Linked DNA regions of Homo sapiens. The protein of the gene in region 3 purifies or fractionates together with the protein of the main gene of each other region. This does not show direct contact. Each region holds a gene or a part of one and is shown on either strand. Other genes may lie near its edges. The genes, in order: ZNF454, NDUFS4, ABCD3, RTRAF, SLC39A12, AGPS and NNT.

Region 1 (4,159 bases), on a different chromosome or scaffold from region 3:
TGGAGTGCACTGGCACAATCTTGGCTCACTGCAAGCTCCGCCTCCTGGGTTCACGCCATTCTCCTGCCTCAGCCTCCCGAGTAGCTGGGACTACAGGCGCCCACCACCACGCCCAGCTAATTTTTTTTGTAATTTTAGTAGAGACGGGGTTTCACTGTGTTAGCCAGGATGGTCTCGATCTCCTGACCTCGTGATCCGCTGGCCTTGGCCTCCCAAAGTGCTGGGATTACAGGCGTGAGCCACCGCGTCTGGCCCATATTCTTATTCTAAAGATGCTAGGACTGCTCAAAGCGTTTTAGGAATTTATAGGACTTTTTGGCAGAATAGTCTTTTGAATAATTTCATTGGTAAAAAAACCAAATGTCATAAAAGAAAAAGAGTCTAGTAAATCACACCTCCCCAGAAAAGTGTTCCTACAATGCCCTTCTTTGAGCTCTGTGTGAGATACTGCCCTGATATAGTTTGGATGTATGTCCCTTCCAACTCTCCTGTTGAAATGTGACCTCCAATGTTGGAGGGGGGGCCTGGTGGGAGGTGTTGGATCATGGGGGTAGATCCCTCGTGAATGGCTTAGTGCCATCCTCTTGGTGATGAGTGAATTCTCGCTCAGTTGGTTCACGTGAGATCCAGTTGTTTAAGAGTCTAGGACCTCCCACTTCTCTCTCTTGCTCCCTTTCTCACCGTGTGATACACCTGCTCCCCCTTCACCTTCTGCCATGATTGGAAGCTTTTAAAGTCCTCATCAGAAGTGGATGCTGACACCATGCTTCCTGTACAGCCTACAGAACCGTGGGCCAATTAAACTTCTTATCAATTCCCCAGCCTCAGATATTTATTTAGAGCAATGTAAAAAGGGACTAATACATGCTTTTACCACTTCAGATCCCTAATCTTACTTGCTAGTGAAAAGAGTACAGGTTTTGATTTCACAGGGACCTGGGTTCCAGTCCCAGCTGTGACATTTATGTGACCTTTAGCAAGTTATACAGCTGCAACACCCACCAGGATGAGCCGGATATGGGGCGGGGTTGGAGGGTGTTGGTTGGGGAGAGGCAACTGAGGTCAGTGTCTGGGTGGGACTGGATTGGGAATAAAGCTCCCGGTCTGAGGAAGCAAACATGCCACACTCTTCAAATCCAGAAAGCAATTTAGGGGGAAGAAACCCCCACTCACCTGGACCATGGTTGGCAGGTGGCTGACAGCCATTCTTTCTTCTCCGATGAGCCCTCTTAGGGACAGGCAAAGTGCTATGGAGGCAGGTGTGGAGCTTCACACCTGCAGGACTCCTCAGGCTAGAAGGGTCCACACACCTGCTATTAGGAGAGAACTGGGTCAAAAGCTCTCATACAGCAGTCCAGAGCGAGGCAGTGAGCATTCACATCCTGGGAGGCCTCCAGTACCCCAAGCAGTGAGTGTTTTGGTTCCTGTTTGCTCCCCATTCTCTCTCCTCCTTCTGAGGGTACTATACATTGACTTTTCCCTGCAGAAAGCCTGCTCCAGGTCCAGTTCTCATGCCTTCCACCCACCCTCTGGTCTTTCCCTTCAGCCTCACTGAGCGATCTCAAGAGAATTCTTTTTTTGTTTGTTTGTTTGAGACAGAGTCTCGCTCTGTCACCTAGGCTGGAGTGCAGTGGCACGATCTTGGCTCACTGCAACCTCCGCCTTCCGGGTTCAAGCGATTCTCCCGCCCCAGTCTCCGGAGTAGCTGGGATTACACGCACCCGCCACCACGCCCGGCTAATTTTTTATATTTTTAGTAGAGACCGGGATTTCACCATGTTGGTCGGACTGGTCTCGAACTCCGGACCTCAGGTGATCGGCTCGCCTCGGCCTCCCAAAGTACTGGGATTACAGGCGTGAGCCGCCGCACTCGGCCGAGAATTATCTCTTTAACAAGTTATTCAGCTCCAGAACCCACCAGGATGTACCCGAAAAGGTGGGAGCGCTGGGGAGAGGCAACGGAGGGCAGTGTCTGGGTTCGACTGGATTGGAAGACCGCTCCGCTCTCCCTCTGCGGCTTTGGAACAGCTGCCTTATCTGGCAGTGACAGGAGAAGAGGAAAAGGAGGGTGGTCTTCTTCCTCCTCAGAAAGGAGGCTAAGAAGGCTCTTCACTGTCGAAGCCTCTCAGGCAAACCCTTCTCTGGCCTCAGTGTTCTCACTCTCTGGGGCCCAGTCTGGGTGGCCTGGAGTCACGGGTGGGCAGAAGCGGCGTTTGTGTGAGCTGGGCGGGAGGGGAGAGGGAAGGGTTAGGAACCCTAATCACACACAGCCCCGTCCCGCCCCTGCCGCTTCGCCAGGTCCCTCGGGGGCTGTGGCAGGGGCTGCGCAGCGGCTGCCTCCGGCCTTGGCGAGTTCCTGGCGCAGGACTCGGAACCACGCCAGGCGTGTATCTATCACCTGAGAGGAAACCCTGGGCTTCTCGGAGTCCGCTCCAAGACACATGCCAGAGGCCCTGGCTCCATCTCCTCCACAGGCACTCACAGACTCGACCCTCAGCCCAGGATGACCACCCCTGGCCGTCCTCCCTCTCTGGGATCAAATCTCAGACATACATTCCGGGAAGTTTGGGGCATTCGATCAGCGTCCTCCAGAATGGACCACAACCCGCACCTCCTCGGCTTTGCCTCCGCCCTTCTCCCCAGACGACCTCACGACCGCTCCCGCTCTCCCTCTGCGGCTTTGACCACCGTGCCTGGTCAGCCCCGTGTCGCTCTTCGAGGAGCCTCTGCCGGCGGCGAGAGATCGCAAGCGCCACATCGCAGTCAGAACACAATGAGCTGGAGTCTGCAGCCGGGAGCCGAACTGCGCTTGCGCGTTGCCCTGGGAACCCTTGGGCCGAATTCCCACAAGTCTCAGGGCTGCTGCAGTTCCGCCGGCCAGACTCCACTTCCCAGAGGGACAATCGGCGGAGACAGTGCTGCCTTGCGCCTGCGGGAACAGGGCCCGGCCCCGGCGCTTTAGGCGCGGAAACTACCTTTCCCAGAGACCCCTCCACGCCGACCTCAGCGCGCTCATTGCAACTTACAGAATCGGTTCCGTTCCGTTCGCTTTAGAACCAGGTCTCTGCCTTGCACTAAGGCGCAGGAAGATGCAGATCAGCGAAAAGCTGAAGATGGGGCAAGGGAGGTTAGTCCAGGGGAGCGACGCCCGATCGCTGACGAGAGAGGATCGGGAGGGTCCGGAAGACGGAGTGGGAGGCGACAGGGCGCGTTCCTGACTGGGACCGCGCCGAAAAGGCCTGGAAGGCAACAGAATTGCCCCTTGGCCTGGCAAGCGCCCGACACTTCCAGCCTGGCACTGCGGGCGGGCCAGCGTGTGCTGGGGTGGCGACGCCACAGCCACTAACGCGTGTGCGGTGCGGGAGGACAAGGATGTCGGGCAGGGATGTCCTGCTTGGCACCTCAGGACAGAGCCCATGGTGGCTGGCGGCCCCTGGAATGTTCGGGACGCAGAACACTTCGTGCTTGGGAACTTCTCAGAGGTGGGGACGAGGGAGAGGAAGGCGCCTGGATGCCAGGAAGTCTCCATCTTGGACAGCTGGGTGGTATTTAAGAAGGTGGTATTTATTTTTGTCGACCATATTTTGCAGAGACTGGCAAGGATGAGATGATGCCTAAGAATATCCAACTGGAGATACTTAGTTGCTTTTGAATAGGTAATTTGCATGGAGCTCAGGAAGGAAAGATGAGAGGGTTTTAACTTTGTTGGTCGTTAAAAAAAATCAAGAATGTGACCTGTTTGTCACATACGGAATTGTTGGCCACGTTTTAGGAAGCAGTGTCAGTGACTACAGCATTCTGTTTGGAGTTTTATTGAAGATTTCATTCCATAGACACTTTGGAGCACTTATGTGTCAAGTGCTTGACAAGGCCAGGGTCAGCCGCTGTGCAGCCCCTGTAGCAGTTCCCAGGGACCCGGCAAAGCACCAGAGGGGGAGGATGTTGTGTGAGTATCGCTGGTAACCCTTCTCTCTCGCCTCCCTCGTGACTCCAGGTCACTCAAACTGGGCTCCAGAGAGTAAGAACCCCGAGTCCAGGGGCTGGAGAAATAGCTGTGAAAACCCTGCACTCATGGAGTTTTAATTGTACTAGAGGAGGGGTCAGACAAGTAGAAAGTATTTATCTGGTAGTGATAACACTACTGTTAGGGGTTAGGGTG
Region 2 (3,500 bases), on a different chromosome or scaffold from region 3:
TTTAACTAGAATCAGCCCTCCTACTTAACATTTGGGCCCTATTCCATTATGGAGAATTAGGTCACTGACTTCATTAGTACCACAAGAATTTATTCCAATACACTGTTAAAAAGCAATTTAATGGCCAGGCATGGTGGCTCACACCTGTAATCTCAGTACTTTCGAGGCTGAGGTGGGTGGATCGCTTGAAGCCCGGAGTTCGAGACCAGCCCGGGCAACAAAGCGAGACTCCATTTCTACAAAAAGATAAAAAAAAATTGGCCAGGTGCTGTGGCATGCACCTATATTCCCAGCTACTTGGGGGATTAAGGTGGGAGGACCGCTTGATCATCCCAGAGTTCAGGGCTGCAGTGAGCTAGGATCACATCACTGCACTCCAGCCTGGGCAAGGGGGCAAGACCACATCTCTAAAGAAAATAATAAATAAAAATTAAAAGTAATTTATTATTATTTATTATTAATCACAATATCTCAGGAACTTATAAGTTTCCCTCAAGTTAGCTAATTTCTAAATTGACCTAGTTCCTACCCCCCTTACAAAGAAAAAAGATATATATATAATATATATTACAAAGAAGTTTATTGTAATTTTAAAACAAGTTAAAGTGTCACTATATTATAAACACCATTCTTACAGTATCTTGGATAAAACAGTATTCCCCCTTATCTGAGGGGGGACAAGTTCCAAAACCCCTAGTGGATGCTTAAAACCACGAATAGTATCAAATCCTATATTTTCCTAAACACATAGACCTATGATTAACTTATAAATTAGGCATAGTAAGAAATTAACAATAAGTTGTAATAAAATTGAACAATTATAACACTTACATACTATAAGAAAAGTTATATTAAGGGTAGTCTCTCTCTATCTCGAAATATCTTATTGTACTGTCCATCGGATAACTGAAACCGTAGAAAGCAAAACTGCAGATAAGGGGGGACTGCTGTATACATAGCTTTGAGTTCCATAACAGTGCTCTGAAATTCAGTCATTTTTATCTAGTAAGTAGTACTCTGAAAAAGACTATGTCATAGTTTACTGTGCTAAGCCACACTTATCTGAATATCTAAATATATAATGTGTATCTTTGAGCACAGTGGTACTTAACAGCGTCAAAAAGTACTGTCATAAGCATATTGTACATAAAAGAGTTTGAAAATCATATTTAGAAGAAAGATCTACATAGAAAAAGATAGCTGACAATATTCACATTAAAATAAAGTACTCACGTTGATGCCCAACCCATCAAAGGATTTTCCCATCGCTCTCTGGTATCAAACTCCATCTTCCATTTCTTTGTGTTGTTTACTCCAGACTGCATGTTATTGCGAGCAGGAACAAAGATCCTGACTTTTCTAGTTTTTATATGCTCTTCTGGAACTCCAGTTAAAGTAGTGATATCCTACAGAAAAACAAGAAAAAAAAACACGTTTCAAACAGCCTACATACACACTAATGTACTTTTGTTGTTTCCTATATTCATGCAACTCTATTCAGATTTGTTCATAAATTGAGATAAATTTTCTGGCTTATTTCACTACCATTCTGATACTTTACAATGTAAATTACTATTTAGATACCTGTAAATGGTTTATTTAGGGGGACGTAGTGGAGACAGTGGAAAAGGATCGTAAAAAAAATTTACGCCCTTTTGTCCAACAAAGCATTGGTATTTTCTGAAGAGACTGTTTGCTCGCAGAAGAGCCTGTAGTCAACAATGCTCTTACTTTGTGAGCAAGTGCGAACTAGTCAGAGGAGAAAAAATACAAAGGAAATATGAAAAGGGGATATAAAAAGTAAATCCTTATTTGCATGTTTATTTAAATCTTAAATAGAAGACAATCTGTTACTTATAATTTCTGTGTCAAATTGCTTACCCACAAGGCATTACCTTGAGAGGGAAACCTGAACCTTTTTGTAAAGTTGTAAATTTAACAACTTTAATTAGCATTGTGATGTATCTCCCCCCTTTGGTGAAACCTACTAAAGAGAGAATGATACAATCAAACACATTCTGCAAAAGTAATCCCAAAAAGTGGCATAATTTTTGCCAAAATGTGAGATGAAAACAATGGTAACTTTAACTCGATTTTTCTATAATTTTATCCAGTAACAAATGCTCATTTTGAAAATGCACAGAATTTTGATGCCCCAGAGTAGATACATTTATCAAAACATAGTAGCAGTCAGGACACAAATTAGTAAAGTAATTCAGAGTTTAAAACTTATTTATTCCTAGTGTTCCATTATTGGAATGCTAAGCATGTGGGAGTTATTTATATCCTACTGCTCAAGGCCATTGCCAAGGTCTGATTGCAAAAATTCTAAAAACTGCAACCTCAGACATAAATGGGTTAAATCTCCATTTAGTAATGGTAAAATACTTTATCTGATCAAAGTAAATCACATTGGGGTCAACCATATGCTTATTAATGAAGCATTTTAAAATCATGGTTCACTTACTAACGTAAATTTTGGATAACTTGGTAAAAACAAGAGTTAATATAAAAATGATTATACCAAATTTGTGAAAACTAGAAAACGTCTGTGAATTTTTATGTCATTATAATACACACCCTAATGAAGACTAATGTTTATTTGTAGTTTCAATCTATCAATGCTATGAACCAAATAACTGGCAAGAATACTTAGCTGGTAAGTATTCTTAGCTAGTACGTACTAGTGGGAAAAACACGAAACACATTTCTGACTTGACTATTATCTCTATCCACAAGATTAAAAACCAATTCTTTAAAGTTATTTTAGTTGGCAACCAATCCTCTATTTAACACAATACCTTTCCACCTGCGTCAATAATTAGGTGTGGCTACTTTGTCACAGCTTGTTTACAGAAACTATCAAAATTATCCATATAAATATTTACACAAATATGCACTTCTAATATGTGCCTACATTTACTTATTTTTAAAGTTTCCCTACATCTAGTTTAAAGTAAAAATGAGTGAAGCTGGCACATAATTTTTAAAGGTGTGAAATACTTTAATTGGTAATTTCTAATATTCAGGTTCAACTTCAAAAAAAGTTTAAGTATTATTATATTTAATGACTTCCTGAAGCATATATTCTCTATTTAAGAGCTTAAAGTGGCTCAACTCCTGGGAAGTCCTCAATGTTTAATTCCTCCTTTGAATTCACTGTAATACTTGCAATCTGCCATAGTAGTTTATTATTTAATATTATATATCTTTAGATTAATCTGTCTCGTTTCCTCAGCTACAGCTTAAGCTGGGTATAAACAAACACTATAAGCATGTTATAGAATTATGGGGTGGGGCATCTTTTCCAAATTCCAAAGCATCCCCTCTGTTCTGAGCTGAGCTCATAAAAGCTGGAGCTGTAAGTTATGTCTATTTTTAAAACTATATGAAAGGAAACACATTAAACTCTTAACACTGGTTACCTCAGGAAGATTAGAGGAAACACTTTTACTTTACCTACTTCTATACTGTGATGCATATATGCCAAAGTGATTAAA
Region 3 (3,500 bases):
TCAAAGACTTACTTTTTAAAGCAATTCTGTGGATTCAGAGACTAAGTCGAGCCTTAAAGTTACTTTAAATATTCAGGTAATCTTTTTCAGTTCACATTTTAAAGATGATTTAAGCTTTTATATGATCATTTAAAAACTTACTTCAAAATTAAGGTCTCGGATCAAAACATCTCCATTTGGCGTTGCTAAAGGAACATGATCAAACCTATAGAGGAAATTTTTAAAAAGAGAATTACTTTAAAGTATATAAGGAACTAATACAACTCAATACCAAAAATACAAATAACCTGATTAAAAAATGGGCAAAGAGCTTAAACACTTCTTAAAAGAAGAAATTCAGATGGCCAACAGGCATACGAAAAGGTGCTCAACATCTCAGTCATCAGGAAAATGCAAATCAAAACCACAATGAGACATCACCTCTCACCTGTTAGGATGACTATTATCAAAGAGACAAACGGTAAGTGTTGGCAAAGATGTGGAGAAAGGAAACCTTGTACATTGTTGGTGGGACTACAAATAGTACAGCTATTATGGAAAACAATATGGATGTTCCTCAAAAAATTAAAATTAGGACTACCGTATGATCTAGCAATCCCACTTCTGGGAACATTTCCAAAGGAAATAAAATCAGTATCTCAAAGAGAATCTTCCTCCCATGTTCACTCCAGCATTATTTACAATAGTCCATATATGGAAACTGCCTAAATGTCTTTCAACTGATGAGAGGATAAAGAAAATATAGTGTGTACAGTGTGTATATATTCACATACACACAAAATACACACAATAGAATATTACCCCACTTTTAAAAAAGAAGGAAACTGGGCCATTTTCAACATAGATGGATCTGGAGGACATTATGCTAAGCAAAATAAGCAAGACACAAAAAGAGAAACACTATGTGATCTTACTTGTATGTGGAATCTAAAATAGTCAAACTCATAGAAGTAGAGAGTAGGACGGTGGTTGCCAGGGGGTTAGAGAGAGAGGAAATGGGGGTAATATTGGTCAAATGGCACAACATTTCAGTGATGCCAGAAGAATAAATTCTGTAGATCCACTGTACTGGGACAATAGTAGAAAATACTATATTGTATACCTGAAATTTGCTAAGACACATCTAAATTAAATTCTCACTAAACACACACAAAAATGGTTAACTATGTAGAGGCGATAGGTAAATTAATTAGCCAAAACGTAATCATTTCACAACATACACAGATATCAAAGCATCAAGTTGCATACTTTAAATATTAATATACACAATTTTTAGGTCAATGATACCTCTAAGCTGTTTTTTAAAAAAGCAGAAATAATTTTAAACACTAAGCAATTGTAAGCTGAAAAAGAAAGACTACTATGAAGTTTAACAAACATTTATGGTGCTAAAAGACCTTTTTCTGTACGTACTTTATAATGTTATCTGCAATAATGATTTCTCCAGCACCAGGTATCAAGGGAATGACTTGTACTCCTTCAATACCTTAAATGGAAAATAGGTATTAAAGCATCATATTATGTCAGCAAACACTTAAAATTGTGACCTTAAACTGTGACACTCATATTTACCCTTTTCCTGTTGTGAGACCATTGTGCGCTCATATTTGCCATGATTTAAATCCTTCAGTACTTGCATTAATTCTGTAATCCGAGCAGTAAAACTAAAATTTTAGAAAAGGAAACCATAATCAAAACTCCAGACTATTGTCACATCTTTTATTTTATACAAACTGAAGTTCCTAAAATTATAATTTAGTATAAATGAAGTAACCTAACAGTCTCATCAACATAAAGTATTAATGATAACATGTGTGCTTTATTATGTTTCAGTAGGAGAGCAGGAATATAGGGATGAAGGAAGAGGTTTCCATAGGATCCCCAACTCAACAGATACTTCATTAATAGCCAAGTCAAGGCAGTTATTTGCTGAGAATTTTCAGGAGGTTTCTCTTGGATACTACAAAAGGACCACTACTAGTATATTCCTTAGACCCAGGAAGTATGGACTCTGATCTCTTGCTGAAGTGACCTATAAAGCCATGTATAAAGCTGGTCTTTCTATCCAAGGAAGGCATTTATTAAATGTATGCCGAATGCATGCTGCCTTCCTGCAAACGGAAGAATCTGAAAGATTCCCTCTTTCTTACTCTGAAGAGGGGAAAGATGATGAGTTCTTATTATTAGATAGAAATCACTGTGGCAATAGAGAAAAATCAAAACTAACGACAAGAGGTTGGAGATAACAAAAATGACCATGATCGCCAAAGAGAAAGTATTCTGCATCGAAGAAGAAAACAGGATTTTTCTCTGAATAAAAAGCAGAAACCTCCTAAAGCAAACTTTGGGAGGTGATGAATGTTTATGGTCTTGATGGTTTCACACGTGTATAACTTATTCCCATATTCATCAAATTGTATACACTAAATATGAACAGTTTCTTATATGTCAATCATACCTCAACAAAGTGGAAAAAAGAGAAAGAAAGGGGGGCAGGGAGACGAAGGGAGGGAGTGAAAGAGAAAGACACACACACCCACACAGAAAGAGAGCGAGAGAGAGAGAGAGAGTGAAAGGAAACACCCTAAAGGAACAGAAGCACCTTATATACCATGAACTGTAAAGCCATAAGAAAAGTTAACAAGTAGGAAGAATGTTAGTATTCTCATGAAAGAGACTCTACTCATAGTAGTTAACAACTTCTATATTGCATGAAGACCATAACTGCCACAGGAGCTAAGAAGGAGGAAAAAGAGAAATATGAAGATGGATCACAGGCCTAGGAAAGATATTCAGTCATCAAACTTCTTCAGGTGACCTAAAATTTATGGTGTTTTTTACACCATACCATGCCCTTTATATTGGAGATTGAAATACTGAAATCTTAATATTTAATTTCATTCTACTGTCTAAAGATAATTTTACTACTAGATAATATGACTACATTCACAAGCACGCCTACAGATACAAGATAACATCTCATTTTTTTTCCCATTAAAGTCAACTTCATTTCTATTCATCTGTTTTGCTAGGTTGCCGGTATCTAAGATCCAAGAAAAAAAGGTATGGTAGAGGACAAGAAAATTTAAATGAGAAAATTCTATTCATAAACATAGTTTTCTGTGAATTAAGACTGCCATGATTCAACATTTCCCAACTTAGCAAATACGTGTCCATGGAGCAAACAACTTGACAGCCTCTAATCTACTGTACTGCGCAAACCAGCTGTCCTCAAGAAACATGAAAAGTTCACCATCAGAAAAATCTTCCTTAATTTTCTATCAAAACCACCTTCCTGGGCTAGGAAATGTTGACCCCTTATCTTAATCTCAACTGATACAATCATTAAGGATAATATATTTTTAAAAATTATTTTCTGCAACAGCTCATTATTACTAATCTTACCCGGCCAATCTAGTCATTTCACGCCCAGCCAAAACTATTCGACCCAGAGCTTGAGACATTCGCAAAAGCATTCTTCCACTTTGGTAGTAATCCTT
Region 4 (3,500 bases), on a different chromosome or scaffold from region 3:
ACTGCCTTCCAAAGCATAGTTTTGCTGAAGGAATGAATGAATGAATGATTGACTTTATTACACCAGAACAATTTACTGTCTGTTCTATAGGGAGGGTGAAATAAGCTGATCTTTAACCCAACTTCCAGTGGCTCGATTCATATACAACGAGCCAGTAAGAACCTTTAAAAGAAAACAGTGTCTTTCAGAGATACTGCCCTGGCATTAGTAACCTTTTAACACTGCTTGGCCTGCCTAAAGGGGCTGGAGGACAAAAGGCATTGGGAGATGGGGGAAGGGCGCAGGGAGGACAAACAACATAGTTGTGCCCAAGGCATTCACTACAACATCATTGCTGCAGGAGGCAGGTGTTATCAGACACTGCTGCTGCTGACCTGAGGACAGTCTCTCCACCGCTGCACAGCCAGTGAAACTTTAGGCATCTTTGGATTTCTGATATAATCTAAAAATGTTCCATATTTTCTCTTTAAGGGGAAGGTAGTCATGGGATATAGCTTTTCTCAGCCTACAAGGTAGGACTGAAAGATACCATTTCAGTCACCTGTACCTTGAACCTTACACTCCAACAGAACCCCCTGTCCCTTCACCTGGGCAGACTGACAAGCTCATGCAGACATCCACGCATGGACCCTTCTCCCCACCTACCGTAAGAGCACAGGCTCTCAAGTCAGACTGCCTGAGCTCAGTCACTTACCAACTAGGTGACCTTAGCCAAATTACTTTCTCATGTTTTATGCCAGGAAATTGAATAAAACAAGAATTTACTCTGAAGAAATAAGAGCAAGGATAGAATTTAGATAGAAAAAGAAAACTAATTTGTAGTGAGGTGTGTTCCTTCTTCTCCAGCATGAGTCAAAATAATCCAGTAAGTTTCATATGGGTAACTCATTTTAAATAAACTTCAACGGGCCACAAGCATGATTTGTGGACTGTGCATGAGCTATTTGTGGCTTTTTTAAGGTACAAAGTGAGAGGAACATGAAGTTTTTCACTCAAAAATGACCCCCTAGCCACTGAATACATTCAATTTGCTTTAGGAAGCACTGAAGTAAGCTATCCTTTCTCTAAGTTGTAGAACGTAGAATGGATATCTTAAACAGATACATGCAAAGTTTAAAATCACGGCCATACCAGAAGAAATGTTCATTAACAACTTATTTAGGATTTATAGAAACGTACCTCTTTTGTTTGATTTGCCTTAGCAACTGCATCCTGTGTCAGGCGCTCCTGAACCAAAATCCGAATTGCCTAAGAAACCCAAAAATATTTTTACTTTTTATAGGCTGTGTACCTGTCATCCTTTCTTCTATGAGCCCAGAGAATAAGGATGCTCATTTTGATGAAGTCAGAATTACCTAAGTTCATTAATAAACTCCCCATTAAATTAAAAATAAAAAAAACCCACTAATATAACGTAACCTTTCACACTTCTAGTATTTTAATAATGTTGAATGGTGCTTGCAACAATTAAAACCATTTTTTGAATAGGTAATGCACGTGACTGGTAAAAAACAACTTTAAATACAGCAAGACACATGGTAAAAAGTAGGTCTCCTTCCTACCTGAGCCTTGCGATCCCCTACAGATTCCTTACCCTCACTAAAACTGCGAAATGACGAGCATGCTTAGCACGAATACACATTTTTGACACAAAGGGTAGCAGATCATACATACTGTCTTACACTTTGCTTTTATCACTTCACTCTAGTAAAATATTTTCAAACCTTTCAAAGGACACCGTTGGTGGTTTTAATCACCAAGGCATTTCATTATGGTAGGCATGCATGCAAGTATCCATACACACTTAAAAATCAAATTTTAAAAAAATGGAATTTTAATTAGGAAGATGACAATTACAACTCAAAAATAAGTGTGAAAACTTAAACTATAATTTTTAAATAAAAAACCAAATGCTATCTTTGAAAAACCGAATTCAAACAATGTTTAACAGTTATTGCAGATGTTATTAAATAGTCTGGTTGCCAAACAGTTAATATACTGATGCTTGTACTTGGCAAACGTACTAAGATGTTTTCCATATTATGTTATTGTTTGAATGCCTCTTAAAATAACTCAAAAGGGACAAATGTGCAGCAGGACTAGAATTTTATAGCATTTTGTTGTAGTTGATTTATACTTTATCCCCTTGGGTTTTGAAGTCTAACAAAAGCATCCCAAATACGCTATGCATTGTCTGACTCTCCTCTCACTTACTTTATGATTAAAGCTGACATGATCACTATAGAACAGTTCCAAGGCAATTTACATAATTGTCGGAATAAAGAACAAGCCTTTGAAATAGCTAAATTTCACTAAAAACATTTTTGTCTTTTGGCATGCAATCTGGATTGAGAAAATCCAAGTTAACATTCAGATTCAGTATAGAAAATTTTAATAACTTAGGAATACAACAGTCTTGTTAAAACTGACATTTAATAATAAAAATCTAAAAAGCATGGTAAGTTATGGCTTAATCTCTTCTGGGTAGAGTGATATTTATCACAAAGTAGTTTACATGCACAAGGTCTAGTTAAAAGCTTTTAATCTCTTATAAAATTTCCAAGTCTGGTATCTTAAGTACCACTCCCCTGATCCACACCACTGTACTTTCACGATTACTAGGAATAAATCTTCTGAAGTTTATGATTTCTCTCAGAAACAAGAGACCTCTTTCAGATTACTGGGATTCCTGAAGTATAGTTATGAACTGAGTGGCCTATCTAGCATCGGGGACAGAAAGATTCATTTCTCAAAGAGATTTTGGGGTTATATATTTTTGACCAAATTCACCATTACTCATTTGGCATTTTCGACCATCTTAACAAATGCAGACTATGAATCATTAAAAAGACTAACTAAACAGAAGTAGGGTAATGTGGGAAAAACAATGGACCACAGGGTTATAGTGCTTAAAATCCTGGCTCTGTCATTTTCTGTGTCATCTTAGACATTATCCTCATTGAGTCTCAGTTTCTTCATATGATATATATTTTTAAAAAGATATTAGCAGCTGTCTCTAGGATTGTTGGCAGGATTGAATGAGAACATCTTTGCAAAGGATTTAGCATAGTGCAGGCAGAAAACAGAATCCAAATCAGATAAAACCATGAAATCTACTTTATGTTTCATATTCTTCTGTGTATTTTAGTCATTCAACCATAATTTTAATATCAATAGTTAATATTTAGAAAATAAAGACATTTTTCTATGTGCACAGTTTCTGTCAAGAATCAAGAACATGAAGCTGACCTTAAGCATTACCAGGTAATCATCATGACGCTGAATCTGAAGCAGGTTAGCCAAAGCCATCACACCAGCCTTAAAATCAGGATTATTTACTATAAAAGATTAAAAACAAACAAAAACTTACAACCCTGCAAACGTATAATTACAAACATATTTGTGAACATACAAAAACATTTTTAACTTTTCGGTAGCAACAAATCTCTTAGTTTTTAAAACTGCTACTCACAAGAGAAAAAAGAAAGCCCTGTAGACTA
Region 5 (3,500 bases), on a different chromosome or scaffold from region 3:
CCATGCATCTTTCTCCAGTTTGTTGTCAAGAAGTCGAATAGTTTCTAGTTTTACAATACCTTCTCAGAGAGTAAGGTTATTCTATTACAAACTTCTGCGCCCTTGGTCTTCGCTTGCTGCTCTTGTGCCATTTAGGTCATTAAGTAAATTTCTTCTGAAATCACTAACATAAATGTCCTTACTGGGGACTCATTATATTCTATAAAATTTTGAACACAACATATTTTTTATAAAGAAAATGAAAATTTAGGTTATGCAGCCAACAATCTTTAAAACATCTTTATTCCTTCCTATGTAATTTTGAAATATGTTTGTACTTGTGTTGATGTTATCAGATTTCTACAGAAGCTTTACAAACATATTCAAAAGCAGTGGTTTCTAATCTTTAGTTTTGAGAATTACTTGCAGGGCTTCTTAAAAGACAGAGTTCTGGGCTCTACACTTGGGGTTTATGATTCAGTAGATTCTGGGTTGGGGTCTGAGGATGTACATTTCCAACAAGTTCCCAGGTGGTACTGCTGCTGCCCACAGCCCTTGGAAAGGCCCAGGCACAACCCTTGGAAAATGATCAACCTAATAATATAGGCAGAGTCCTCAAATCTGGTGTCCCACGTTAGGATACCATCAAGAATCACAAAGAAAGTCACACGTTGGAACAGAGAAGAATTATTGGAGAAGAGGTTGTTGTGTGTGTTTTGCACAGAAAATGATTATTGGCATTCTTAGAAGATGCATGCCTTAAGTAACCCCTAAATGTTAAGAAATGAATTATTCTTTATTCAAATAAGGTCTCCATGAAGAGACCGTATTTGTTCTCTTCCTGAGAGTTGGCCCTAATTAAGGAAACTTCACAAACATGGATTAATATGGAGATCAACTCTTGTCACCTGCAGTTGAATACAATAAACATGAGTCTGAAAGAGTCAACTTCAACAGATTCCTATTATACATGGCAGAGGTAACAGAAAATAACTTTTAAGATACATAATAGCAAAAATATGTGCCTATTTTTGTTCAACATTGTATCTCTCATGCCCAGGATGATTAGCGGTGTGCATAAAATGCTCAATATGTTTTCTGAATTATTAATTCACTCAATCTGAACCCAAGGGAGGAAAAAGCAATATATTTCATTCCCCTATATACCTTGGCTTTGTTTTTATGTCTACAGAGATACACTTGTAGAAAAAGAAAACCGTAACTACGTGGTGGAACTAGAATATTTTTACTTTTCAAGATAATACACAATACTCTTTAAGTTTTCTACAACTCTAATAAAACTTTCACAGCTGGGCTTCCTTTGACAGTAGCAAATGCTTGAATAAGAGAAACAATGGCAATACCTGATCCCAGGAAACTGGACCATCCTCAGACTCTTTTTCCATGGATGAAGAGAAATTAGAATAGTCCTGATCATGGGTTATTATGTTGTTTTGTTTCCTTTGAAATTGATGGATTTTCTCATTTTTGATACAAGTACTTCTGGTCCAGAGAGTGTTGAGGAGTTGGTCTAGTTCTAGAAATTTCATATAAAATCTGGTGTCACATAGAATAGATAAGTTCCGAATAGTCACAATTTCACATAGCTACAGCATAGATATTCCCTTACAAAGAATTCTTATCATTTTTTAAGCCCTAGAGATGACAGAATGGACATTTCCACCCACGAAAATGCCTTCCATTGCGTCAAGGATTTTCTTTTTCTATAAAAATGTAAATTAAAGATGAAACTGGCCTAATCCTTAGGAAATTATTCCCTGGAGGCATTATACATCCATCATAGATTAATTATTACTTTAGTTAAGTCAATCAAATTGTTTTCCTTTTAAGTGTATATGCAAAAGAAAGAAAAGCCGTGAAAGGGAGATAAGATTCTAGAAACAAACTAGATCTTGTTTTCTAATGCAACTATGGTATGGCAGTCAATTTAAAGATCACAGATTAGTTTCCCTCAGTATAGCTCTAGGCTTTTAAAAAATAATGTGTACAAAGAAGAAATAAACATAACAGTAAATTTATATGGATTTATACATCTTCTTACTTATGATTAAAACAGAATTTTCCTAAGTGTTATCAACAGTGGTAGAAAAAAAAAAAGCAGTCAATAAATACATCTCAGTATTTCCAGATGTTGGATTCAGCAAATACAGACTTTAAAGGAAATATTATGTTTAAGGAACTAAAAGAAATTATATTTAAAGAATTAAAGGAAAGTTTGACAATAAAAAATCAATAGCAATTTTTAATAAGGAAATCTAAATTATATAAATGTCCAAATGAAAATTCTGGAGTTTAAGAATATCGAGACAATAAGTGAAACAAAAAGTTCACTACAGGAACTCAACAGCATATTTGAGAGGGCAGAAGAAAAAAATCACTGAACATGAGTATAGATTAACAGAAATAATTCATTCTAAAGAACAGAAAGAAAAAAGAAAAAGAACAAGTGTTCACAGACTTGTAACAAGAGCAAGTATACCAATGTATATATATTAGCAGTCAGAGAAAGGAGAAAGAGAAAGGATTAGAAAAAATACTAGAGGAAATAATGGCCAAAACTTTCAAAATCTGATGTAAAAGCCTGAACATACGTGTTCAAGAAGCATATCAAACATCAAGTAAGATAAATACAAAAAGATTCACACCCAGACACATTACAGTCAAACTGCTGAAAGTCAAAGATAAAATCTTGAGGACCAGCGTGGTGGCTCACACCTGTGATTCCAGCTCTTTGGGAGGCCAAGGCGGGTGGATCACCTGAGGTCAGGAGTTCAAGACCAGCCTGGCCAACATGGTGAAACCACTTCTCTACAAAAAAATATATATATAAAAATTAGCCAGGCGTGGTGGCAGGCACCTGTAATCCAAGCTACTCAGGAAGCTGAGATGGGAGAATCGCTTGAATCCAGAGGGTGGAGGTTGCAGTGAGCTGAGATGGCGCCACTGCACTTCCAACCTGGGCAACAGAGTGAGAATCTGTACCAACAAAAACAAAAAACAACAACTACAACAGAAGATAAAATCTTGAAAGCAGCAAAAGAAAATGACTCATCACCTACCTGGGAGCATCACTACAATTAATGGCTGATTTCTTATCTAAATAATGGGGGACAGAAGGGTAGTGAAATGATATATTCAAAGAGCTACAGAAAAAAACTGGAGGAGGCAGAGTAAGATGGCAGAATAGAAGCCTCCACCAATCATCTCCCCACAAGGACACCAATTTAACAACTATCTACACAAGAAAAGCACCTTCATACAAACTAAAATTCAGGTGAGCCCTCGTTATACCTGGTTTTAACTTCATATTACTGAAATAGGCACTGAAGAGGCAGAAAAAACAGTCTTGAATCTCTGATGTCACCCCTCTCCCACCTCCCCAGTAGCAGCAGTGTGGTGCAGAGAGCATCTCTGGGTGCTGACAGTAGGGGGGCATGGCAATTTTGAGGCATTGAACTCAATGCTGTCCTGTTAAAGCAGAAAGGAAAACAGGACCAAAC
Region 6 (4,100 bases), on a different chromosome or scaffold from region 3:
CTAACCATTTCTCTGTTGCTAGACATTTGGACTGTTTTCAATGGTTTGGTATCTCTTCGTATATAAATTTCAGAAGACATTCGGACCTCCTGTAAAGGCCAGGTAATACATATTTTGGGGCTTCTGGGACCACATAAGGTCTCTGTTGCATATTCTTTTAAAAAATTTCTTGTTTTCTTTTAACAACCCTTCTCAAATACAAAAACCATTAGCATGAGGGCTGTGTAAAAACAGGCCACAGACTAGAGCTGGCCCTCCAACAGCAATTTGCTTAGCCCTTAATTGAGAGTTTTTAACCAGTCTGGGCCTCTTTGGAAGTTCACTCTAAAGGCATAATCTCAATTTTAGAAGCTGGCAACACCCAAGAGAGCAATTGTTAGTCTCTAGTCCCATGGATGTGGTGTTCTTCAGATTCCTCTGCCAATATTTTTCTTGTTAGGAAAGCATGATGTGAAAGTGGTGACAGGATGGAGAATGACAATGGCCAGTGTATGTGAGTTTTTGTCTAAGCTAATTCTTATGCAAGACACCGGCTGAAACAGGTGAGGAGCACTTTTCACGTGCTATCTTCCAGAAATGAATTCAATCTGTAAATAACTGAGATGTCTTCACAGCTCTTGGGTAATTTTTGTCTGTAGCAATAAGAAACTTTATCTCTATTAAAGTTAGGAAGGGGTTAGGATCCAGTAATGAATGAAATGAGAACTTAAGTTGCAACTCAGTTTCTGTACTTACTTGTGATCTAGCATTAAACACAGTGCCAGGCACGAAATAGGTGGTGAGAAATAAGAAAATGATAGAGCTATTTGCTCTAATGGTTAGAGGCAATGATGGTCAGCTTTGAGTTACTTTGGTGACCCCGCAGGGAGGAAGAGCACAGGTGGAACATTAGAATCTCTTTCAGGAAAAGGATGCCGCTGGATCCATCAGGTCCAGTAGCACTGCCCATTTCTCCTGCTCCAAGGCATCTGCCCTCGAAAGCCCCCAGGCCACACCCGAGGACACCACCCAGGGTTCTAGGACACCTCGAGGGCGGACGTGGTTTGGCTCTCGGTCCAGCTGGACCGGGCTGGGCCAACCGGGAGTCAGCTCGAACTCACCTGCTTGGCAGGTGCGCGCTTCCCGAGGCGTGACAAGGGAGCGCCGGCGCGGTGGGTGGGGGGCAGAGAATGTGAAGCTCCAGACGCATGGCACCCGCCGCCAAGTCGCCGCGGTGGCTGCCGGGATGCGCCGCAGCGAATGGTCGCGCCGGGCGCCGCTCTGAGTGACCTTTCACCCGCGCCCAGCGGTTCCGGGCGGCAGCACAAGGCGGTAGCCATGGCGGAGGCGGCGGCTGCAGCGGGTGGGACTGGCTTGGGCGCGGGCGCGAGCTACGGGTCTGCAGCGGACCGGGACCGGGACCCGGACCCGGACCGCGCCGGGCGGAGGCTGCGGGTTCTCTCTGGCCATCTGCTGGGCCGGCCCCGGGAGGCTCTGAGTACCAATGAGTGCAAAGCGCGGAGAGCCGCGTCGGCGGCCACGGCAGCGCCCACGGCCACTCCCGCCGCGCAGGAGTCGGGCACCATCCCAAAGAAGCGGTGAGTAGCGGTATGTGGAAGGAGTTAGCGTCGAGGGACCAGGCCGGGCCTGTGCTGCAGGAGGGCACAGGCGAGGTGGGAAGGGAAGTGACACGGGTGGGCGGAAGGCATCCCGGTCCCTGAAAGTAGGGACCCACCTCTCTTTCGAGAGAGTGGACTAGACCCTGGATTCTGTCAGGAAGGGGGCGGGATGGGATGGTGGATTTTGGTCACTATGTGAGGGTAACAGGCTTGAAGAACTCTCGTTGGAGAAGGGTTTAAAGGATTCCTTTTTCCTGAGCTTTTAGTGCCAGGAATTCATTTTTTATCTTGAATTAATACTTTTGGTGCTGAGGTCTTGGAATGGGTAGCAGAGGTTCTATTTTTCTCCGAGGAGATATAAATTTGTACTAGATGATAGATCATAGGAATCTCTCTCATTCGCGAAAGCCTGCTGTGGGGGAAACTGGTGGTGCCCTGGAAAAAGGTGCTGACTGGTTTCTGTGGGGTAAGTTCCACTTGCTTAGGATCAAGATGTATTGACTTTGAGGGAGGAAACCGATGAATGGTAAGAAGCCATAAACTGCAAACACTAGCTAGTGGTTTAAGGTGTGGTGGTATAGCTACTGAGCTCTGTGTAACCAGAAGCTAAAAGACAAGAGTCTAACCGATGAGGGATGTTTGTAAGAGATCTTGACTTTCGATGTTTTTGGAGAAATCTTTTTTTTTTTTTTTGTATTTTTAGTAGAGACAGGGTTTCACCGTGTTAGCCAGGATGGTCTCGATCTCCTCAATCTCTGATGAAGGCTATTAGGAGAAGCTACTTTCTGACGTGTGGCTTTGTCACCGTGGATAAATGGATAAACCGAGAGTGAAAAAAATAAGTAGCTAATGTTTAAAGTGTACTTTTAAGTGTGCCAAAGTGTGCTAAATCCTTTGTTTCTTCCCAAGCTATGAGGTATGTGCGGTTTTCTCCCATTTTACAGATGAATAAATTAAGTCTGCTGGAGTCTTAGCAGATATGCTGTGTGACAGGTTAGAATTTGAAAGCACATCAAATTGACTTCATGGCCAAGTTCCTAAGCTATACTTGCTTCTGATGAATTAATTCAACATACATGAGTCTTTACAAAATACACACTGTACCAGCAATACAGAAATTTAAAAATACGGTATTTACTCTTAAGGAAGGAATAGCTTAGTAGGTAAAATTATAATACAGCGTTATAAGAAACTTAACTGGGAACTATACCACCTGGTCATTTAACCCAGTTTTGGGTTTGTGTTTGTTAGTGCAAAGATGTTCCAAAGTAAAGATTGTCTGAGTAAATTTTGGATGTTTGCATTACTAATAGTTTGCCAAAGGGGGAAATTGTTCTTGGCATACAAACAGTATGTTCACAGGTAAAGAAGTGAGAGACAAATTAGGGAACTGCTGAGACTCAAGTGTAGTAGGAGAGGGTGAGAATGACAGGGGACGAAGACTGGAGAGGTGAATCTTGTTTACAGGATTTTACGTGGGGCAATACATGATTAGATTTACCTTTGATAAAGGTCACACTGGGAGCAAATTGAAGACAGTTGAGCATTTTGGCAGTATAATGGCTGGGAACATAGACCTGGATTTCAATTTCCACTACACCGTTACAGCTCTATGATCTTGGGCAAATCACTTAACCTCTGAGAGTTTCAGTCACCGTCATTTGTAAAAACGGGAACAGTAATCCTGTTTTGCAGTGTTGCTGTGAGAATTGAAAAAAATAGAGTTAAATGATCAAGTGTTTAGTGCAATGCCTGTTACATAACCTTTCAAAGAATGGTAGCTGCAATTTTCACAGTGTCTAAAGGCAGAGAGACTAGGAGACTATTATTCCAGGGAGAAATGCTGGGATTCTGAACTAAGGCATATTATTGGGAGTAGGCAACTTAATTGAGAAAATGCTAGGAGGTAAATTTTCCATAACTTGGTTACTGAGTGGTGGGGAGGGGAGGAATAAAGGATTTCATCTCGTCTCCTGGCTTCAATTGAGGTTATATTATTAATAGCTGTCATTAGGTTTAAAATTTTCTAAATGGTTTCATGTACATTTATGTGTTCTCATTTGTATGCATATATGTGATTGTACATTTTATGTAGATTCACACTCTTAGAACCAAGTAAGGAGGGCAGGTTTTCCTTATGGTTAGATTTAATGGCTTGGTTTACAGCATTCAGAGAAAAAATAGTAACGTTTGTAAGGCACACCAAGATGATGGTTGAAGGTGACTGGTCAGGGATGCCCTGTGTGGCTGCTCCAAGGACTGAAGGCATCGATAGTTCAGGCACGACTGTAACCCATTTGTTGCATAGGTTACAGCTGGTGGGAAGCCCTGGTCTTTGGTTCGGGGTTAGACGACTAGTGGTAAAATCTAGTCCTGTACTGGTACTTTGAGATTTTCATCAAAATATGAGGGAACACAGAAACTTGTATTAGATGACACATCAAAAGCTTCCACAGAGGGTGATATACTTGATAGATAATCATGAGGAACCCAAGTCTCCCT
Region 7 (3,500 bases), on a different chromosome or scaffold from region 3:
TGGGGAATACTCTTTATAAATTTAAAAACCTAAAGAAAACCATTTTTAAAAAAGGATAAAATGAGAAATTACCCATGCTGACATTTCAAGAACTAGAAACAAGTCTTCTTCCCTCCTCTCCCCATATCAGCATGCCATAGGCTTTGTTAACATTCAAATCCTTCAAATCCTCCCATTTAACTTTAAAAGCCACTTTCTGATTCCTCAGGGATCTAGAACTAGAAATACCATTTGACCCAGCCATCCCATTACTGGGGTATATACCCACAGGATTATAAATCATGCTGCTATAAAGACACATGCACACATATGTTTATTGCGGCACTATTCACAATAGCAAAGACTTGGAACCAACCCAAATGTCCACCAATGATAGACTGGATTAAGAAAATGTGGCACATATACACCATGGAATACTATGCAGCCATAAAAAATGATGAGTTCATGTCCTTCGTAGGGACATGGATGAAATTGGAAATCATCATTCTCAGTAAACTATCACAAGAACAAAAAACCAAACACCGAATGTTCTCACTCATAGGTGGGAATTGAACAATGAGATCACATGGACACAGGAAGGGGAATATCACACTCTGGGGACTGTGGTGGGGTGGGGGGAGGGGGGAGGGATAGCATTGGGAGATATACCTAATGCTAGATGACGAGTTAGTGGGTGCAGCGCACCAGCATAGCACATGTATACATATGTAACTAACCTGCACAATGTGCACATGTACCCTAAAACTTAAAGTATAATAAAAATAAATAAATAAATAAATAAATAAATAAAAGCCACTTTCTGACAAACCGCAAGTTTAAGTAATAATGAAAATCTGCTGCCCCCTGCTGGTCATTCAAATTCATCAACTGAAGCAAAATCAAACTAAGGGTTAAAAGTTTACTTTTACAGAAAACTGTATTTCTAGTACAATTTCATAAACATTTCTTCTTCACAAATGTTTCTTCTTTCTGTCACAAAGCCTGACACTTTTCAAATAGGATACATAAACCTTCACCTTTCCAAATTCCCCAGGTAATTTAGGCTATTTAATTTTAAAACCCCTTAGCTTGTTTTGAATTTGGGCTATCAAATCCTTTGTTTTGCAATATAGCCTAAGAAACAAAAATATTTTTTACTATGAAAAGATACTTCAGCCTTCCAAATTACAATGAGATTTTCAGTTAAATCATAAGAAAAATCCTGAGTTGTAAAATAAGCGAGTTTTTTAAAATATTATAATAAAAGAATGAAGGTAGAGTAAGTATCTGATATGGTTTGGCTCTGAGTCCCTACCCAAATCTCATGTCGAATTGTAATCCCCACATGCCACGGGGGGACCTGGTGGAAGGTGATGGATTATGGGGGCTGACTTCCGCCTTGCTGTTCTTATGCTAGTGAGTTCTCACGAGATCTGGTGCTTTAAAAGTGTGTGGCACATCCCCCTTCACTCTCTCCCCTTCTCCGCTATGGTAAGATGTGCTTGCTTCCCATTCACCTTCTGCCATGATTGTAAGCTTCCTGTGGCCTCACAGTCATGCTTCCTGTTAAGCCTGTGGAGCTGTGAGTCAATTAAACCTCTTTACTTCATAAATTACCCAGTCTGAGGTAGTTCTTTACAGCAGTGTGAGAATGGACTAATACAGATCCCTTTCTTGTCTAAATTATTTATCAGTGTAAAATCACGTTCTGCTTTCATTTAGTTTCATTATTATTTAGAAAATAACATCCATAATTTGAAAAAAAAAGTTCTACTCAAACCTTTAATTATAATATTTGCAGAACATCTTCTTGCCATCAAGAAGAGAACTTGAAACAAACAGAAAAGCTAGGAAGTATTAGTGTTGTTACTTTTTTCTGTTCTTTTAAAAAACCATCATGCTGACCACAAAACTTCTAAGGTAGAAACTCTCACAGATGACCAACAGGAGTGTAAATTAGAACAACCTTTCCAGAAACATGGCTATAAGTATAATGAGCCTATAAATTCTAGGAATCTATCTTAAGACAAAAATCTGAAATGTCAAAGATATGTACAAAGAGAAATCAAAATCAAACAACTTCATATGTATAGCATTAAGGGCAAATTAAATAAATTTTGTATATCCATATGATGGATCACGATAAAGTCTCTTAAAATAATATTTTAAAAGAATTTTTAATGACAAAAAGTCAACAATATAGTATATAAGTTTTTTTAAATGTAGGACAATATACAACACGATCAGACAAGTAAATACACAGATATGCCATACATAAGGAAATAAACCAAAATCTTACCTGTTTATCTCCAGATGGAGAGAGGCACTAGAAGATTTTCATCTTTCTATTTAATTTTCCTAATTATTTACAGTTGGGTACCTTAAAGGCAGTCTTGGAAATTTATGCAAATGAAATACTCTGCTATGTCTGCTGAAGAGAATTCAAAGCTACCATACTCTTTTTTTTTTCTTTTGAGATGGAGTCTCGCTATGTCACCCAGGCTGGAGTACAGTGGCATGATCTCAGTCACTGCAACCTCTGCCTCCTGGGTTCAAGCAATTCTCTGCCTCAGCCTACCAAGTAGCTGGGATTACAGGCACCCACCACCACGCCTGGCTAATTTTTGTATTTTTAGTAGAGACAGGGTTTTACTATCTTGGGCAGGCTGGTCTTGAACTCCTGAGCTCGTGATCCACCTGCCTTGGCCTCCTAAAGTGCTGGGATTACAGGTGTGAGCTACCATGCCCAGCCTACAATATTCATTTTTATGGGTAATAAAAGAAATGACATGCACATCCATGTTTTCAGGAAGCCATTTCCTTTTGTTTCATGTATGTGTTGTTTCTTACCACACACATGATGTATGACAGGATAGCACCAGACGAGCCTATGAGTGCACCCACGATGGTCAGCAGATTGTTGTTGAGCAGGAAGCCCTCTGCACACAGGGCCCAGCCTGAGTAGCTGTTCAGCACAGTGATAACGACGGGCATGTCAGCACCCCCAATAGCAGCTGTCAAAGTCACACCCTAGAACAACAATCAAATCAGAACTCAAAATTAATAACATAAAAATAAAACCTCTGACATTTAACATTTTGCTCCTTAATTATTCTAGTTTTCCCATTAATATATTTACATATAAGTTCCACTTCCGGTAATAAGTGTCTCCCATCTGACCAACACTTCCACAGGTATAACAACTATAAACACTGAGCCACCCACCCCCCTAAAAAAAAATCCCTACATTTTAAAAAAACACTTTTCAGTGATGAAAAGCAGGCAGAAACTGGAGAAGCGTCTACATTTGGAAAAATACAATGACACTAAGTGAATTTCCCAGTTTTTATGGCTTTAGACTGAGGGCAATCCCCTGTTGGTACCAGTTAAGGAAATTATAAAATATAAGCCCACAGTCTTACTGACTTGAAGATCCTGAAGATAGCATTTGAGATGACTAAGGCAGCTGGAAAGTAATAAGGGGAATCCCACAAAGAAGCAGGCTAGAGGGAAGGAGTCCC

Evidence for each region.
Region 1: the proteins of ABCD3 (region 3) and ZNF454 fractionate together in Homo sapiens (co-fractionation; one large-scale study listed by BioGRID). This does not show direct contact.
Region 2: the proteins of ABCD3 (region 3) and NDUFS4 fractionate together in Homo sapiens (co-fractionation; one large-scale study listed by BioGRID). This does not show direct contact.
Region 4: the proteins of ABCD3 (region 3) and RTRAF purify together in Homo sapiens (tandem affinity purification; one study listed by IntAct). This does not show direct contact.
Region 5: the proteins of ABCD3 (region 3) and SLC39A12 purify together in Homo sapiens (co-immunoprecipitation; one large-scale study listed by IntAct). This does not show direct contact.
Region 6: the proteins of ABCD3 (region 3) and AGPS fractionate together in Homo sapiens (co-fractionation; one large-scale study listed by BioGRID). This does not show direct contact.
Region 7: the proteins of ABCD3 (region 3) and NNT fractionate together in Homo sapiens (co-fractionation; one large-scale study listed by BioGRID). This does not show direct contact.

The regions. Positions count from the first base shown.
Region 1 is NC_000005.10:178,939,839-178,943,997, reverse strand, and holds the start of ZNF454 (zinc finger protein 454), read right to left. Parts: upstream 2,801-4,159; 5' UTR 2,554-2,800; intron 1,314-2,553; 5' UTR 1,207-1,313; coding exon 1,174-1,206; intron 1-1,173. UniProt on the Homo sapiens protein: May be involved in transcriptional regulation.
Region 2 is NC_000005.10:53,644,139-53,647,638, reverse strand, and holds part of NDUFS4 (NADH dehydrogenase [ubiquinone] iron-sulfur protein 4, mitochondrial isoform 1 precursor), read right to left. Parts: intron 1,407-3,500; coding exon 1,234-1,406; intron 1-1,233. UniProt on the Homo sapiens protein: Accessory subunit of the mitochondrial membrane respiratory chain NADH dehydrogenase (Complex I), that is believed not to be involved in catalysis. Complex I functions in the transfer of electrons from NADH to the respiratory chain.
Region 3 is NC_000001.11:94,487,889-94,491,388, reverse strand, and holds part of ABCD3 (ATP-binding cassette sub-family D member 3), read right to left. Parts: intron 3,498-3,500; coding exon 3,406-3,497; intron 1,665-3,405; coding exon 1,573-1,664; intron 1,487-1,572; coding exon 1,414-1,486; intron 206-1,413; coding exon 142-205; intron 1-141. UniProt on the Homo sapiens protein: Broad substrate specificity ATP-dependent transporter of the ATP-binding cassette (ABC) family that catalyzes the transport of long-chain fatty acids (LCFA)-CoA, dicarboxylic acids-CoA, long-branched-chain fatty acids-CoA and bile acids from the cytosol to the peroxisome lumen for beta-oxydation.
Region 4 is NC_000014.9:51,999,546-52,003,045, reverse strand, and holds part of RTRAF (RNA transcription, translation and transport factor protein), read right to left. Parts: intron 3,339-3,500; coding exon 3,250-3,338; intron 1,249-3,249; coding exon 1,180-1,248; intron 1-1,179. UniProt on the Homo sapiens protein: RNA-binding protein involved in modulation of mRNA transcription by Polymerase II. Component of the tRNA-splicing ligase complex and is required for tRNA ligation.
Region 5 is NC_000010.11:17,975,918-17,979,417, reverse strand, and holds part of SLC39A12 (zinc transporter ZIP12 isoform 1 precursor), read right to left. Parts: intron 1,517-3,500; coding exon 1,344-1,516; intron 1-1,343. UniProt on the Homo sapiens protein: Uniporter that promotes Zn(2+) import from the extracellular space to the cytoplasm across the cell membrane. The transport activity is temperature dependent. May play a role in neurulation and neurite extension.
Region 6 is NC_000002.12:177,391,473-177,395,572, forward strand, and holds the start of AGPS (alkyldihydroxyacetonephosphate synthase, peroxisomal precursor), read left to right. Parts: upstream 1-1,300; 5' UTR 1,301-1,317; coding exon 1,318-1,577; intron 1,578-1,582; exon of another isoform or gene 1,583-1,652; intron 1,653-4,100. UniProt on the Homo sapiens protein: Catalyzes the exchange of the acyl chain in acyl-dihydroxyacetonephosphate (acyl-DHAP) for a long chain fatty alcohol, yielding the first ether linked intermediate, i.e. alkyl-dihydroxyacetonephosphate (alkyl-DHAP), in the pathway of ether lipid biosynthesis.
Region 7 is NC_000005.10:43,658,680-43,662,179, reverse strand, and holds part of NNT (NAD(P) transhydrogenase, mitochondrial), read right to left. Parts: intron 3,010-3,500; coding exon 2,830-3,009; intron 1-2,829. UniProt on the Homo sapiens protein: The transhydrogenation between NADH and NADP is coupled to respiration and ATP hydrolysis and functions as a proton pump across the membrane. May play a role in reactive oxygen species (ROS) detoxification in the adrenal gland.